Regions from separate parts of the Homo sapiens genome. Here region 2 is linked to region 1. The links come from fine-mapping of genetic effects on gene expression. A gene starts in region 1. The other region holds a variant in brackets. All regions are shown on one strand. Distances are from middle to middle.

Region 1 (8,490 bases):
GAGTGAGACTGAAGCAGGAAAACCAGCCACACAATTCCTGCAGGAATGTGGCTGAAAAGCAATAAGATCTAAGCCAGGTTAAGGCACCAGGAGTAGAAAAATGCAGACAGGGCTGAAGTACATCTAGGAGGCACAATCTACATGACAGGGATGGGAAGGGGACCAGAAGGATGGAGAAGGACGCATCTGACTCAAGTGAAAAGGTATCTGAAAGTGCCATGCAGAGAGAGAGAAGGCTCCATGTCTCTCCAGAACATAACTGCATTTTTTCCCTCATCAGTCACACAAGACAGAAAGCCCTACTTTCCTCTTGAGGCTGGCAACCTATCCACCTAGTTGCTCAAGCCAGAAACCTGAGAGTCGTCCTCGTCACCACTCACTTTCTCAGCCCCATAACCAACCCACCGAAATAACTCTTTTATCTGCCTTCTCATCACCTGCACTACCAGCACCTATGTCCAAGCCACAGGCCTCTCACCTTTCACTCTTGCCCTTCCCCAGTTCACTCCTTACTCGAGGCAGGAATGTACTTTCTAAAATGTAACCTGGACTGTGCCCTGGCTCAAAGTTTGTCAGTAGCTTCCCATTGCCTTTAGGCTACAAAATACTGCCTCATCTGAGCCCTGCTTACCTCTTCCCTTTGCTCCTTAAGCAGTCCCACCCAGCAGAAAGCACCTGGCATATAATAAACATTCAACACATGTTTGCCAAATGAAGGAAGGCACCGTTTAACTTGTCAGTGAACTAACTGCCCCAGAAGCCACAGGCTGTGGACCACATGGACAAAAGCTTTCAGGCCCACCCTGCAGGGCTGTTCTGCTATGCAAGACTGGAACACAGCTCACTCTAACTGGGAATGCTTATGGCAGGGGCCTTGACCACAAATAGAAGGCAGACACATTCAGCTAATCATCACCTGTCAGACGATTTGGCAGCTTGGGCTGCAGAGGTGGGAGCCTGAGGCTGAATACTGACCTCTTCGGCATTCTCCAAGTCATCTAGCCCTTCATCCTCCTCCACATCATCAAAGTCGTCGCCATCAAAACTGTACAGGAAGAAGAGATCAGTTACTTAGAGCATCACTTAAAAGAATCAAAGAGGGGCCAGGCACGGTGGATCACACTTGTAATCCTGGTACTTTCGGAGATTGAAGTGGGCGGATCACTTGAGGCCAGGAATTCAAGACCAGCCTGGCCAACAAGGCAAAACCCCATCTCTACTAAAAATACAAAAATTAGCCGGGCATGGTGGCACATGTCTGTAATACCAGCTACTTGGGGGGCTGAGTCACAAGAATTGCTTGAACCCAGGAGGTGGAGGTTGCAGTGAGCCAAGATTGCACCACTGTACTCCAGCATGGGTGACAGAACAAGAACCTGTCTCAAAATAAATAAGAAAAATTAAAAAAAAAAAAAATTCAGAGGCCGGGCATGGTGGCTTTGTATTGTGGCTCTGGGATTAAGCCTGTAATCCCAGCACTTTGGGAGGCCAAGGCGGGTGGAGTTCAAGGCCAGCCTGACCAACATGATGAAACCCCGTCTCTACTAAAAATACAAAATTAGCCGGGAGTGGTGGTGGCACATGCCTGTAATCCCAACTACTTGGGAGGCTGAGGCAGGAGAATCACTTGAACCCAGGAGGCGGAGGTTGTGGTGAGCTGAGATCACGCCATTGCACTCCAGCCTGGGCAACAAGAGTGAAACTCCGTCTCAAAACCCCCCCCCGCCACCGCAAAACAAAAAACAAACAAAAAAAAAATCAAAGAGGGCAGAGATCTGTGTCTCGCCCAGTATGTAGGAAGCACTCAATAAATATTTACTTAATAAGTAAATCAGCTGAGTGCAGTGGCTCACGTCTGTAATCCCAGCACTTTGAGAGGCCGAGGTGGGTGCATCACTTGAGGTCAGGAGTCCAAGACCAGCCTGGCCAACATGGAGAAATCTCGTCTCTGCTAAAAATACAAAAAAATTAGCCGGGTGTGGTGGTGGGCGCCTGTAATCCCAGCTACTCAGGAGGCTGAGGCACAAGAATTGCTTGAACCCGAGAGGCGGAGGGTGCACTGAGCCACGGTCACCCCACTGCACTCCAGCCTGGGTGACACAGCGAGACTCCTTCTCAAAAAATAAAAAATAATAATAAGAAGAAGAAGTAAATCCGACTTTTGTTCCATTTTACCCCTTCAATTTTTCCCCATCTGCCCCCAAATATTGCTAGTACTCATTCATCATCACTGTTTCCCTCTCTACTGGATCATTCCCATCAGCATTTTTTTTTTTTTTGAGACAAAGTCTCGCTCTGTTGTCCAGGATGGAGTGCAATGGCGTGATCTTGGCTCACTGCAACCTCTGCCTCCTGGGTTCAAGCAATTCTCCTGTCTCAGCCTCCCGAGTAGCTGGGATTATAGGCACACGCCACCATGCCCAGCTAATTTTTGTATTTTTAGTAAAGATGGGGTTTCACCATGTTGACCAGGCTGGTCTCGAACTCCTGGCCTCAGGTGATCCACCCTCCTCGGCCTCCCAAAGTGCTGGGATTAGAGGTGTAAGCCACAGCACCCGGCCCCATCAGCATTTCAACATGTGCTTTTCCTCATCTAAAAAAAAAAAAAAAAAAACCCTTATTTCTCTTCTCTCTCCCCCTATAGCCCTAATTCCATGGTGTCCTTTGAAGCAAAAATGTGTGAAAGAGCTGTCCACCCTCACTATCTTCCTCTCTTCCCATTTTGTCATAATCTCACTCCAAAAAGCCTTTCACCCCAACAGCTCCATCAAAACCACTTTCCAAGCTCATTAATGATCTCCACGTTGCTAAATCCAATGGCCAACTCTCCTTCTCATTTAGCCTGATCTATCAGCTGGCACATTAGGCCACTTGCTCTCCTCACTTGACTCCAAGGACACCTCACCCTCTTGGTGTTCCCCCACCTCCCCGGCTTCTCTTTTCCCCCAAGCACTCAATGTCCAAATGCCCTAATGCTCAGCCACGGGTCATCTCCTCTTCTCTACTGACACTCACTGGGAATGGGGTAGCAATCCCACACGTTTCTTATTTTTATCTTCAGACTAGCTCTCTTTGCACCCACATATCCCACAGGTAATTTTTGGGCTCTATCTTTAAAATAGTAATATATCCAGAATTCAAAACCAGTTCTCACCACCTCTACTCCTACCACCCTACTATAAGCTACTGACTTCTCTCATCTAGATTACTACAAGCAGGCCGGGCACGGTGGCTCACGCCTGTGATCCCAGCACTTTGGGAGGCCGAGGCGGGTGGATCACAAGCTCAGGAGTTCGAGGCCAGTCTGGCCAACATGGTGAAACCCGTCTCTACTAAAACTACAAGCAATTAGCAAGGCGTGGTGGTGCACGCCCATAATCCCAGCTAGTCGGGAGGCTGAGGCAGGAGAATCCCTTGAACCCCGGAGGTGGAGGCTGCAGTGAGCCGAGATCGCGCCACTGCACTCCAGCCTGGGCGACAGAGCAAGACTCTGTTTCAAAAAAAAAAAAAAATTACTGCAAAGGACCGTCCCAGACTTTTATTTAATGCCACCCGGTGGAGCTGCCCCAGACCCTCCTCTGGAGTACTCCTATACTACATACGTCTAGAACTGGGGAAGCTCACGCGACCACCGTTACCTGCTTGCTTGCTTACTTATGGGCCTGTGACCCCTTTTCTAGAAAGTGAGCACGTGGAGAGGCAGGGACGATTGTTCATTCACCTCAATATTCCCACTGCATGATACAGAGCCCGGCTCGCTGGAACATTTGCTGAAGGACACCTTTTCTACGGATCCCCTCTGGACCCTCGAGCCTGGGCCCTCCTGTGCCTCCAGCCGGGGCTGTGCTCCTGGGTCGCCCGCCCTTCCCTTCCTCGGCTCCGCCGGCCCCCTCAGGACCCCAGTCCCCTCAGACATTGCCCCTAGACGCCAGGCTCCTCAGCCGACCCAAGCCTTGCCTCATCCGCCCCTTCCAAGGTTGCCGCAAAGGCCACTCCGCTCCCGCACTCACTTGTCCTCGTTGTCTGACATGACACCCTCGCCTCAGCGACCCCGCTGCGCCCCGGTCCCGCGCGGAGACCCGCAAACAGCGACACTACGACTCGCGCGGCTCCTAGCTTATCTTGCGCCTGCGCCGTAACCCAGAGGAAATCACTTCCGGGAGGCAGGACAGAGCGGGGAAAGTGCGCATGCGCTGACTGGTGTGTGCGCGTTTCTATAGTAGCGAGAGGCGCTAGCTGCCAGCTCCAGCAGCCCAGATCGCGCAGTATTTCTGCGTGGCACCGGTGCGGATGCGGCTGTAAAGCAGTGGTCACCGCCTCCGGGAGCCCACTTCTATGTGGAGAGGGGAGCACCCAGAGAGGGTCTTAGGGTGAAATTTCAATTTTGGCATATCACTCAGTGGGTACTGTTGTGACCATGGCTGTGTTAACACTCCCTCCCGAGGAGACTTCCCTGCCACAGGCGCTGGGTCAGAATGAGGACTGTGTGTGTGTATCTGTGTGTCTGGATGGGAGGTTTGGGCACTGTCGCAATATTAACTGGCGGCATCATTCTCTGGCTCGATCCCCGCTTCCAGACTTCTGGGGGTGTTGGGCGTCGGGGAACAGAGATTAGGGACAGGAGACAGGGGGTGTGTCATTGCGTCTTTCCCTCCTCAGAGTCCTCCCATGGCTTCACAGAAGCAGATGGAGGTAGTGACCAAAGGAACTGGGTTCCGGCGCCGCCCCAAGACCATCACTTACACCCCGGGGACCTGCGAGCTGCTCAGAGGTCAGTCCGTTAAAGCAGCGATCCCAGCCTTTTTGGCACCAGGGACCGGTTTCGTGGAAGACAATTTTTCCACTGACGGAGGTGTGGGGAATGGTTTCGGGATGAAACTGTTCCACCTCAGATCATCAGGTATTAGTTAGATTCTCATAAGGAGCGTGCAACCTAGATCCCTCGCGTGCGCAGTTCACAATAGGGTTCGCGCTCCTATGAGAATCTAAGGCCGTCACTGACCTGAAAGGAGGCGGTGAGGCTCGCTAGCCTGCCGCTCACCTCCTGCTGTGCGGCCCGGTTCCTAACAGGCCAGGGACTGGTACCAGTCCACGGACGGAGGGTTGGGGACCCCTGAGTTAAAGGATGAGAGAAGAATGGTGGTAGTTACCCTCTGTAACTCAGTTCCCCCGTACCTGACCTGTGGCTTAGCACTATTTTCCTTTACAGATAAGGAGCCTGGGGTTCAGAAAGCTTCAAAATTCTACTGCATATGCCTTATTCGGGGGCGGGGCGGGGCGGGGGGGAGGGGAAGGTTCAAGGTGCTACACCTTGCCAAAAGTCAAAGAACTAAAATTTTTAGAGTAGTTAACTCCTATGCATCCTTTAGATCACACTTTCAACTTTCCCGAGGAAGACTTCTGCTCCTCACCACCACAGTAGGATCAACTGTTATGTGCCCTCACACATTTTCCTTCACTGGGCTTAGCACAAGCTGTAGTCAGTTATTTGGTGTCCCATCTATCCCTCCAGATCATGAATTTCATCAGGCAGGAACCGTGCCTGTTTCGGCCCACAATTGTAGCTCCAGCCCCTGAAACATGATGAACAAGTATTCATGTGTTCTTTTACTCAACAACTTTTTTGTTTTTTTCCAACAACAACATTTTTAAGTCTACCATGTGCCTTAGACTCTGTTTTAGGTGCTGGGGATACAGCAGTGAAAGAAAATGAGGTGGCTCAAACCGGTAATCCCAGCACTTTGGGAGGCCAAGGTGGGCAGATCACCTGAGGTTAGGAGTTCACGACCAGCCTGACCAACATGGAGAAACCCAGTCTCTACTAAAAGTACAAAATTAGCCGGGCGTGGTGGCGCATGTCTGTAATCCCAGCTACTTGGGAGGCTGAGGCAGGAGAATTCCTTGAACCCAGGAGGTGGAGATTGCAGTGAGCTGAGGTCGCGCCACTGCACTCCAGCCTGGGCAACAAGATGGAAGCTCCATCTCAAAAAAAAAAAAAAAAAAAAAAAAAAAAAAAAAAAGAGAAAGAGGAAAAAATATTTAACAGAGGGCAGAAATTTTATTAAACCAGCAAAAATTCTTATCATACAGCTAATATAGAAGGATAACAATAAAATAAAATATATAGAATTTTAGGTGGTCGTAAGTGCTATAGAAAAAACGAAGCAGGAAAGATAGAGAAGGCATGCTCAGTGCAGAATGGGGCTAGGATGTAGGGTTTTAAATTTCAGTAGGGTGTCAGGTGAAGGCATCCGCCTGCAGCCCAAGAGGCCTCATAGAATGCTTTGTCGTGCAGTGATGATGAAGGAATCCAAACTGACGAACATCCAGCAGCGCCACATCATGGACATCATGAAAAGTAAGGGGCAGTCCACAGAGGCTTCCTGGACAGAGGGATCTGGGGCCACACTTTTAATGCTTCTCCATGTTAAGGGAGAGAGGACCTCATATAAAAAAAACAAAGACAGCCGGGCACGTGGCTCATGCCTGTAATTCCAACACTGGGAGGCTGAGGTGGGAGGATGGCTTAAGCCCAGGAGTTCAAGACCAGCCCGGGCAACGCCACAAGCCACAAGACCTCATCTCCACAAAACCTTTTTTTTTTTTGAGACAGAGTCTCACTCTGTCGCCCAGGCTGGAGTGCAGTGGCGCAATCTCGGCTCACTGCAACTTCTGCCTCCCGGGTTCATGCCATTCTCCTGCCTCAGCCTCCCAAGTAGCTGAGACTATAGGTGCCCACCACCACGCCTGGCTAATTTTTTGTATTTTTAGTAGAGACGGCGTTTCATCGTGTTAGCCAGGATGGTCTCGATCTCCTGACCTCATGATCCGCCCACCTCGGCCTCCCAAAGTGCTGGGACTACAGGAGTGAGCCACCACGCCTGGCCAACTTTTTTGTTTTGTTTTGTTTTGAGATGAGTCTCTCTCTCTGTCGCCCAGGCTGGAGTGCAGTGGCATGATCTCGGCTCACTACAACCTCCGCCTCCTGGGTTCAGGCAATTCTCCTGCCTCAGCATCCTGACTAGCTAGGATTACAGGCGTGCGCCACCATGCCCGGCTTAATTTTTGTATTTTTAGTAGAGACTGGGTTTCACCATGTTGGCCAGGCTGGTCTCGAACTCCTGACCTCGTGATCTGCCCGCCTCGGCCTCCCAAAGTGCTGGGATTCCAGGCATGAGCCACTGCACCCAGCCCCCAAAATTTTTTAAAATTAGCCAGGTGTGGTGGTGCCAACCTGTAGTCCCAGCTACTCAGGAGGTTGAGGTGGGAGGATCACTTGACCCTGGGAGGTCAAGGCTGCAATGAGCTGTGATTGCACCACTGCACTCCAGCCTGGGCGACCGAGTGGAGCCTAATCTCAAAATAATTAAAATAAAATAAAATTAAATTAAAATAAAAACAGGTCAGGCCGGGTGTGGGAGCTCACACCTGTAATCCCAGCACTTTGGGAGGCTGAGGCGGGCAGATCACCTGAGGTCAAGAGTTCAAGACCAGCCTGGCCAACATGGTAAAACCCTGTCTCTATGCCAATACAAAAATTAGCTGGGCATGATGGCGGATGCCTGTAATACCAGCTACTCAGGAGGCTGAGGCAGGAAAATCACTTGAACCCAGCAGGCAGAGGGTGCAGCGAGCCGAGACCATACCACTGCACTCCAGTGTGGGTGACAGAGCAAGACATCGTCTCAAAAACAAAAAATAAAAAATAAAAAAAAACAGGTCAGCTGTGGTGGCTTATACCTATAATCCTATCACTTTGGGAGGCTAAGGCAGGAGGATTGCTTGAGCCCAAGAGTTCAAGACCAGCCTGGCAAAACACATACATACTGGGGTGTACCTGTAGTCCCAGCTACTCAGGAAGCTGAGGCAGGAGAATCACATGAGCCCAGGAGTTCAAGGCCAGCCTGGGCAACACAGTGAAACCTCTCTCTACAGCAAAATTTTTGGGTGTGTGACCAAAAAAATTAATACTTCTGACCGCTCGCTCCTGGGGAATTGACCTTGTAGAGGCTGGATGGGCAGAAAAGGTAGACAGGCACCCAGATCAAAACAGTGGATGAGCCAGGTGCGGTGGCTCACGCCTGTAATCCCAGCACATTCAGAGGCCGAGACAGGCAGATCACCCAAAGTCAGGAGTTCAAGACCACCCTGGCCAACATGGTGAAACTCCACCCCTACTAAAAATACAAAAATTAGCCAGGTGTGGTGACCCGGGCCTGTAGTCCCAGCTACTTGGGAAGCTGAAGCGGGAGAATAGCTTGAACCCAGGAGGCGGAGGTTGCAGTGAGCTGAGATCACACCATTGCACTCTAGCCTGGGTGACAAGAACAAAACTCTGTCTCAAAAAAAAAAAAAAAAAAAAAAAAAATTAGCCAGGCGTGGTGGCACACACCATAATCCCAGCTACTCAGGAGACTGAGGCACAAGAATCGCTTGTACCCAGGAGGTGTAGGTTGCAGAGAGCCAAGATCATGCCACTGCACTCCAGCC
Region 2 (8,490 bases), 130 kb before region 1:
TTCTAATGACAATAGTCATTTGTGATCACTGAGAAACATTAGGAACATGGCGGAAGGCTAAAGAGGAAAATCACGCACAGCGGCCCTTTGCAGCCGGCATCTGCCCCTCTGCTGTTTGTTCTGTTGTCCCGAGACCCTCACGCGTACGGGGCGACTTTGGTGCTGGACGCCCACCTCCAGGCACATACCTGCTCCACTTCCCGACGCCTTCCACCTGAGGCCCTGAGGGGCCAGCAGTTGTCCTTCAGAGGGAGCCTGCAGAGGTGCAGAGTCAGGTGGGACCCGTCGTCCTCCCCTCGTCCTTCAGCGCCCTTTGCAGGAGAAGGAGACTTGGGGTGAGAGTCCTACCTCCGTTTCCCCTTTTGGTTCCCAGACCTGAGCCACCCTCACGTGGGTAGCCCTGTGCCTCAGTTTCCCCATGCTTCGTCTCCATCCCCCTCCTTCTCTAGGCTGCTGGCCCAGCCCCTCCCTCTTGTCCCCGCCCCCTCCCAACAGAGGCAGCGATGGGCGCTGGCGGCCCCCGGCGGGGCGAGGGCCCCCCAGACGGCGGCTGGGGCTGGGTGGTGCTGGGCGCCTGCTTTGTGGTCACCGGCTTCGCCTACGGCTTCCCCAAAGCCGTGAGCGTCTTCTTCCGCGCGCTCATGCGCGACTTCGACGCCGGCTACAGCGACACGGCCTGGGTGTCCTCCATCATGCTAGCCATGCTCTACGGCACGGGTCAGTGTCCCCGCCCGGCCCTCCGCCTCCCCGGGACCCCTGGGATCCGGAACCAGGAGACACCCGAGCCCCTGAGCATCCCCCTGACCCTCGGGGTGGCCCCCGAAGTCCCTTCCTGCCTGTGGGAACCCTGGCACCAGAAAGAGGGGAAGAGAGGGCGGGAGGGAGACAGCGGCCAGAGGCGGGGCCGGCCCAGGGGGCTGCCCTGCGAGCTCAGAGGGCCCCTTCTAAGACCACACCCGCCCATTGTAGAGGCAGGAAAGCTGAGAGCCACAGAAGCACTCCCCCTCCCCGCAGCCCTGACCTGTAGGTGGGGGCTTGCTGGAGTTCCCATCCTGGGAGGCGGGGCTGCGGAGGAATCCCAGTCTGTGCCAGGGCGGGACTTGGAGGCTGTGAAGGTTAAAGGGGTGCGGAAGCCCCCGCTCCGCTTGGGGTTTGGGTTCGCAGGATGGGGTGCTCTGGGCCTTGCCCTCGCAGGATGCTGTCTCTTTGGCCTGTCCCCTCCAAGCTGTGTGACCTTGGCCAGACACTGCCCTCCTCTCTGTGTCCCTGAGCCGGAGGTGACCTTATTCCTTAGAGGACTCAAGCCATCCCGGGACCCGGGTGGTGACCCTGCCCTGCCCACAGGCCCCGTGTCCAGCATCCTCGTGACCCGCTTTGGCTGTCGCCCGGTGATGCTGGCGGGTGGGCTGCTGGCTTCCGCGGGCATGATCCTAGCTTCCTTTGCCACGCGCCTCCTGGAGCTCTACCTGACCGCTGGGGTGCTCACAGGTGAGGGCCCCCTGGTCTCCTCTCCGCTGGGTTGGGGGTCGGGGGTTCTTGCTGCAAGATCTGTCCTCGGTTTCCCTATGAGGGACAGTCTTCGAAGTCCCTCGGCTGGGTTCCCGGATCTGCTGGGTTCCCGGGCCTGGCCCCTCCCTCCTGTGGGGGCCAGGGAGGGGCTCTCCGGGGACCCCGGCACAGCACCGCCTCGCCCGCAGGCCTGGGCCTGGCCCTCAACTTCCAGCCGTCGCTCATCATGCTGGGGCTGTACTTCGAGCGGCGGCGGCCTCTGGCCAACGGGCTGGCGGCGGCGGGCAGCCCCGTGTTCCTGTCCGCGCTGTCGCCGCTCGGCCAGCAGCTGCTGGAGCGCTTCGGCTGGCGCGGCGGCTTCCTGCTGCTCGGCGGGCTCCTGCTGCACTGCTGCGCCTGCGGGGCTGTCATGAGGCCGCCGCCCGGGCCGGGCCCGCGACCGCGCAGGGACAGCGCCGGCGACCGCGCCGGGGACGCTCCGGGCGAGGCGGAGGCTGACGGTGCGGGGCTGCAGCTGCGCGAGGCATCCCCCAGGGTCCGGCCCCGCCGGCGCCTGCTGGACTTGGCAGTGTGCACCGACCGCGCCTTCGCCGTGTACGCCGTCACCAAGTTCCTGATGGCGCTCGGGCTCTTCGTCCCCGCCATCCTGCTGGTGAACTACGCCAAGGACGCGGGCGTGCCCGACACCGACGCCGCCTTCCTGCTGTCCATCGTGGGCTTCGTGGACATCGTGGCGCGCCCGGCGTGCGGCGCCCTGGCGGGCCTGGCGCGTCTGCGGCCGCACGTCCCGTATCTGTTCAGCCTGGCCCTGCTGGCCAATGGGCTCACAGACCTGAGCAGCGCACGCGCGCGCTCCTACGGCGCCCTCGTCGCCTTCTGCGTCGCCTTCGGCCTCTCCTACGGCATGGTGGGCGCGCTGCAGTTCGAGGTGCTCATGGCGGCTGTGGGCGCGCCCCGCTTCCCCAGTGCGCTGGGCCTGGTGTTGCTCGTGGAGGCCGCGGCTGTGCTCATCGGACCGCCCTCTGCCGGTGCGCCCCGAAGGAAGAGGGGGTGGCGAGCCTAGTGCCCCTTAGACCCAGGGAAGCTCCATCCCCCTGTCTCAGATGGAACTTCCAGGGATGAGGGGAAGGGGCAGTCGGGTGGGTGGACTCCCCTTCACGGCCAGTTAGTCCCTCCTCCAAGCCGGACCGCCCGCTCTGGGTGAGGACAGAAAAGCCCAGGAAGGTGCAGGGAAGAAAGCAACACTGGTAGCTGGCCAGATCTGCCATCCCAAGCAGTTGGCACAAGGCCATCTGGAGCGCAGGTGCTTATTCTCATTTTGCAGATGAGGAAACTGAGGCACAAAGCCTTAGCGCAAGTTGCAGCCCCAGAATGAGAGCCTCAGTGTACCTGCTGCTAAATGCCCACGCCTTTAGAATGGTGCATCTAGAATGGTGACTGGAATGGGGACAGTATCTTTGGGAAACTGGTGTTGGGGCCAGAAACAGAGTGGGGGTGCTCAGCGGGCAGATGGGGAGAAGCACTGGTGTCTTTCACTGTGCAGATGGCCTGCTGGCACTTGTCACCGTCACCCTTAGGAAGTCATCGTCATGAGGGTGGTCAGGGAAGGCTTCCTGGAATATCCCCCAGGTGAAGGCACAGCATGGATGGGCAGGGCTTGTTGGGGGGGAACAGCGTCCTTATGCAAGCAAGGCAGGAACCAAAATTGGAAAGGTGGGAGTGGGGGACATGAGGGTTTTCCTGGGTTGTCAAGTTATCTTGAAACAGCAAGGGAGCCTGCCTTTGAGTCCCAGAGGCTAGAGGGCTGTGAGATGGTGCAGTAACCAGGGAGGACACCTTGCGGGGGCCGCAGGCTGCACTGAGATGGGGTGAGCTGCTCGTCCTTCCTTCAGGGCTGGGCTAATCGAGTGCCCTCACTGAGCTCTGTCATCCCACCTGACCCAGTGAGAACGGCAAAGTCCCTGAGCCAGTGTGTGGGCAGGCCACAAAACCAGCCTGCCCAGGCCTCAAGGAACCGTCTTCCATTTCTTGTGTGAATCTGGATGGATCTGATGGGCAGAGGAGGTGCATGGGGTGAGGAGAATGACCTAGAGAGAGGGTGGAGCACACAGACAAACCACACTTTAGGGGGAAATACTTGCAATTAAGAGATTTTCCTGGTCGGGTGTAGTGGCTCATGCATGTAATCCCAGCGCTTTGGGGGGCTGAGGCCAGAAGTCTGAAACCAGCCGGGGCAACATGGCAAAACCCTGTCTCTACCAAAACAAAACAAAACAAAATTAGCTAGGTGTGGTGGCGTGCACCTCTGGTTCCAGCTACTCAGGAGGCTGAAGTGGGAGGATGGCTTGAGCCCAGGAGGTGGAGGTTGCAGTGAGCCAAGATGGCACCACTACATTCCAGCCTGGGCCAATGGAGTGAGACCCTGTCTCAAAAGAATAAGAAAATTCCTGAAGCCAGGTGCAGTGGTTCACACCTGTAATCCCAGCACTTTGAGAGGCCAAGTCGGGAGGATCCCTTGAGCTCAGGAGTTCAGGACCAGCCTGGGCAACACAGCAAGACCCCATCCCTAAAAAAAACATAATAAAAGAGAGACTTTCCTGAGTTTGAAAGTAGTATCTACAAGGGATAGAAGCCTTGAGAAATAGAGAAGGAAATGAGTTACTGGCCCACAAGCCCCACCTGTGCCGATGATGGCTTGGTCTGGGATGCTCATGGGCCTCCTGGGACAGAGGGGTGGGAGGACTAAGCCAAGCCCCTGAGGACCAGGGCATTTACATGGCAACAGCAAGAGGTGGAGGCCCCCAGGAGGGCAGAGCTAAGCCCAGGGCCCCCTCCCCGCTCCCACCCCAGATACCCCACTGCCAAGCAAGTCACAGGACACTTGTGGGGCTTGAATCAGAGGGTGGAGGGGACGCCTCACCA[G/A]AAGCCACATATCACTTAAGCAATTGAGGTCCAGGGACAGCAAGTGACATTTTTAAGGTTTCAAATGGCAGAATCCACATGAGGTTTTACATCTGTAAAACAGGAATAAAGAGTGGGCATGTGTGTGTCACCCAGGAGCCTCACCAAGTCAGTGGCACCACCCTTGACCTGAGAGTGCAGGAGAGTGAGGGGAGGACCCCACAGGACCTTACCTCTCCCTCCTCTTCCTCCTCCTCCCCAGGCCGCCTGGTGGATGTGTTGAAGAACTATGAGATCATCTTCTACCTGGCCGGCTCTGAGGTGGCCCTGGCTGGGGTCTTCATGGCTGTCGCCACCAACTGCTGCCTGCGTTGTGCTAAAGCTGCCCCGTCAGGCCCAGGCACTGAGGGCGGAGCCAGTGACACTGAGGACGCTGAGGCTGAAGGGGACTCTGAGCCCCTGCCTGTTGTTGCAGAGGAACCCGGCAACCTGGAGGCCCTGGAGGTGCTCAGCGCCCGGGGCGAGCCCACAGAACCAGAAATAGAGGCGAGGCCGAGGCTGGCTGCCGAGTCTGTATAACTCAGGGTGCTCTGGGTGGGGTGGCCCAGTGACTTGGGAACACAGCTTCTTGTCTCAGAGAGCCTGGTACGCTGGGAGGCTGGTCTGGGGTGGTCACTCCCGGGGTCCACGTCTGGGCTCCAGTTGATCCCCTGGGTGTCTGGGAACTGCCTCCCTCATCTGTGCCCCAAGTTCCGCCAGGCCCTGCCCCATCGCCAGTGAAGCTGCTATGGAGCAACAGGAAACTGGTGATAAAGCTCAGCTGAACGACAGAAGGTTCTATTCCTCCGCCCAGGCTCCGGCTGCCACCTGAGTTGGGGGTCAGGGTGGTGGGAGGGAGTCTGGGAGGTCTCTCTCCAGGCCCCCTAAGCAGGCTTCTAGGTGGGCAGTGTTGGGAGGAAGCGTCAGAGATGGATGAAGAGACCCATCGTTCCCAGGTGTAGAGACACAAGGGGCTGGGCGGGCACAGGGCTCAGGGGCACAGGGCTGGGTGGGCACAGTGCCTGGCTCCTGCCCAGCCCCACTGCTCAGAGCTGTCTGCTGAAGGCCCCCTCGCTGGCATCTGCCTTTTCCCGTGGAGGGAACGAGGGGTTGGCAGCAACTAGGGTTCAAGGTTGGGGTCTGCCTGCAGGCGGGGGGCCCGAGCGGTCTGAGAAGACTCACAGTTCCCAGGGTCAGGGTCGGTTTGAATCCCAGCCCCGCTGACTTCCTTGCTCACTGGAGGCTGAGCATACGACTCCGTCCCCTGGGGTCCTGGGGAGGGTGGGACCAGGCGCTCAGTAACACCATGGGCCCTGCTGCCTTCCACGAGGTGGCCATGTCCCCTCACCTTCCCAGAGGGCATCTCTCCCACTAGAGGATAAACTTGGGTGTCCAGGGCCAGGGGCTTTTGCTGTGGACACTGTGCTGGCAGCCAGGTCATCTGCTGATCCCAGCACCTGCCTTCTCCCCACGGAGCGTCCCACGATCTCCCTCACACTTTGACATCTGACCTCCTGCACTTGGATCCAGGTGCACGAATCTGGCAAGACGCGATGTATTCCCTCTATGCATTTATCCTCCTCCCATACATCACACCCCTCCTTTCTTTGCCTCCCTCCGAATCATGAGCGTGGTGAACAGGCCCCTGCAGAGGAAGCCGCCTTCCCTCCGCAAACTCCCCTCACCTTCCAGCCCGGCCCATAGTGACCCCTCCCCACTGGTCCCTGCTGGCCCTCATTTTCCATCTAGGCCCCAGGAAGGTCTGGGGAGCCCCACAGATGCCTGGCCGGCTTCTACTTATATGGCCTGTGGCTTCCCCTGCACCACTAGAGCAGTGACTGCGTTTGACTTTATTATTATTATTTTTTATTTATTTTTTTGAAATGGAGTCTCGCTCTGTTGCCCAGGCTGGAGTGCAGTGGCACAATCTCGGCTCACTGCAAGCTCTGCCTCCCAGGTTCACACCATTCTCCTGTCTCAGCCTCCCCAGCAGCTGGGACTACAGGCCCCCGCCACCACGCCTGGCTAATTTTTTGTATTTTTAGTGGAGACGAGGTTTCACCGTGTTAGCCAGGATGGTCTCGATCTCCTGACCTCGTGATCCGCCCGCCTTGGCCTCCCAAAGTGCTGGGATTACAGGCGTGAGCCACCGCTCCCGGCCCGTCTGACTTTATTTAAGATTTAAGAGTGCTTGCTCTGTGCCAAGCCCTGTTCTAAGCCCTCTCCAGATGTTCATTTAATCTCCTAACAAGCCAATAAGGTAGGTGCCACACTTCAGATAGGGAAATTGAGGCCCAGGGAGGTCAGGAACGAACCCAGGCTGTCAGTTCCAGCCTGTGCTCTTGGCCTCCACTCTGGCTGCCCCCTTCAGGGAGGCAGTGTGGTCTGTCTGATGGCTCTGCGGGGACCCAGGTGGGCTCCTGGTGACAGCCAGCCCCTCCTCCATGTCCCACCCCTGCCAAGCCTCCCATTTGGGTTTCTGCCCAGCAATGCATGCTCAAAGCTGATGCAGAAACCCTTTTTCCATCCTGGACTCAGCCCACCTCGCACACCCTGTTGCCCCCTCGCATTCTCAGGATGGCCATATTCATCGTCCAAACAGGAACACGTTAGAGTGACAAGGGCCACTATGACTGATTACACCAGGCCGAGGCTGGCCAGGAGAAGCAGGAGAAGTGGCCACCCTGTTTCTGCCACTCTGCAGACACTCCCCATGGCCTCTCCCCACGCCCCTCTTCCCACAGCCCCCGAGCACCTCTCCCCACACGCCTTTCCCCACCACCCGGGCAGCACAGGCGCGCCTGGAGTCAGCACTTACCCCTCACCACCCTCCCCTACTTGGGGGCTCAGTCGCCCTGGCTCCATGTCTGCCCTTCTCTCCCCCAGAGGTTTATTTCCTGTCGGAAGCACAGAAAGGTCACAGATTGGGGGCGGGGGAAGGGGGCGGGGGGTGAGATACAAAAGGTTCCACAAAGCAGAAAGCTTTGGAGGCAGGTGGCAAAGTCAGGCCTTCAGGACAGATCTGAGTTAAAACCCACTGTGTCCCCACACAGGGCGTGGCCTTGGGCAAGATCTTTCTCTGAGCCTCAAATCACCAGCTGTGAGGGGACCACAGTGCTAGCCCTGCAACACTTCAGTGAGGCATAAATGGTGCATAGCAAGGGCGCTGTCAATAGACGGTGGAGGGGAGGGGCAGACAAGGAGGGTCTGAAGCCACTGCGACCACTGCGCCATCCAGGTTTGTGTTTATTCGATACAGGCCCAGAACCCAGCCCTCCTTCAGAGAAGTGGCCGAGCTGGGGGAACAGAATAAATAAAGGCCGCCGAGGTGTGATGGGGACTGGACGGGCCGGTCTGGGGCGAGGCAAGGGTGCCCAGGAGGCATTGACCCCAACCTCAGCTGTCCACGGCTGGCCCCACTCCCAGCAGGCTCCGGGGGCAGTGTGAGCGCCCACAAGGAGCAGGGCTCGGACTCCTGCCACCTCCAAGTCCTTTCTTTTCCTTCCTGCCCTCCCTCTCCTTCCTAAGGCAGGTCCAGAGACCAAGCTCTCCCTCTGGCCGGGGAGCCGGGAGGGGAGGGAGGGTGGAGGGGCCAGTGTCCAGGTCCCAGGCCATGACCCTGGTGCCTGTCCTGGGCAGGAGCCCAGGTTCGCTGTGCGAGGACAGAGGAGCAGGGAGGCAGGCGCCCCAAGCCAGCAGGCCTTTATGCGTCGCCCCCTTGCGCGGCGGCCCCGCCCCGCTCCCAGGCTCCGTCCTCCCACGCACCCTGCCCCCGGCACCACAGCCGCGGGGCACTCAGGAGTCACACCAGCTTCCACCCTTGTCCAAGGGCCCAGCAGCCCCTCGTGTATCCCTGGACGGCTCCCCAGCTGCCGTGTCTTCCTCCTCCTCCTCCTCCTCCCCATCTGTGAACTCCTCCTGGTTGAGGCCATAGGCCAATGTGGTGTGCGCCAGGTCTACCTCGATGGGGAAGACGTCGGCATCCCGCAGCACTGCGTAGCAGTCGTTGTAGTACTTGGACATGGTGGACACGAGGCGCTG

Which allele goes with the higher level. Alleles are on the strand shown, and positions count from the first base shown. SD is a standard deviation of normalised expression in the study named.
For the expression in esophagus muscle of the gene that starts at base 4,217 in region 1, allele G in region 2 goes with a lower level than allele A (small effect, 0.11 SD a copy in GTEx).

What was found.
Region 2: its variant is fine-mapped to the expression of C22orf23 in esophagus muscle (GTEx, PIP 0.95).

What each region holds. Positions count from the first base shown.
Region 1 is chr22:37,949,328-37,957,817 of GRCh38, reverse strand. It overlaps C22orf23 (chromosome 22 open reading frame 23), which reads left to right and starts at 4,217. Exons shown (of 7, transcript NM_032561.5): 1 at 4,217-4,370; 2 at 4,660-4,771; 3 at 6,296-6,358. The coding sequence starts at 4,669. POLR2F (RNA polymerase II, I and III subunit F) reads right to left here and starts at 4,119. Exons shown (of 5, transcript NM_021974.5): 1 at 4,011-4,119; 2 at 976-1,045. The coding sequence starts at 4,030. RefSeq lists a silencer at 3,884-3,953.
Region 2 is chr22:38,074,887-38,083,376 of GRCh38, reverse strand. PICK1 (protein interacting with PRKCA 1) reads right to left here. Exons shown (of 13, transcript NM_012407.4): 13 at 7,676-8,490. The coding sequence ends at 8,245. It overlaps SLC16A8 (solute carrier family 16 member 8), which reads left to right. Exons shown (of 6, transcript NM_013356.3): 2 at 16-335; 3 at 496-717; 4 at 1,345-1,488; 5 at 1,698-2,537; 6 at 4,673-5,240. The coding sequence starts at 504. The coding sequence ends at 4,989. It overlaps LOC105373027 (a long non-coding RNA gene), which reads right to left and starts at 4,736. Exons shown (of 3, transcript XR_938249.3): 1 at 4,644-4,736; 2 at 4,430-4,523; 3 at 3,010-3,764. RefSeq lists a silencer at 685-734 and enhancers at 2,050-2,831, 7,916-8,417. The variant G/A (reference allele first, on the strand shown) is at 4,432.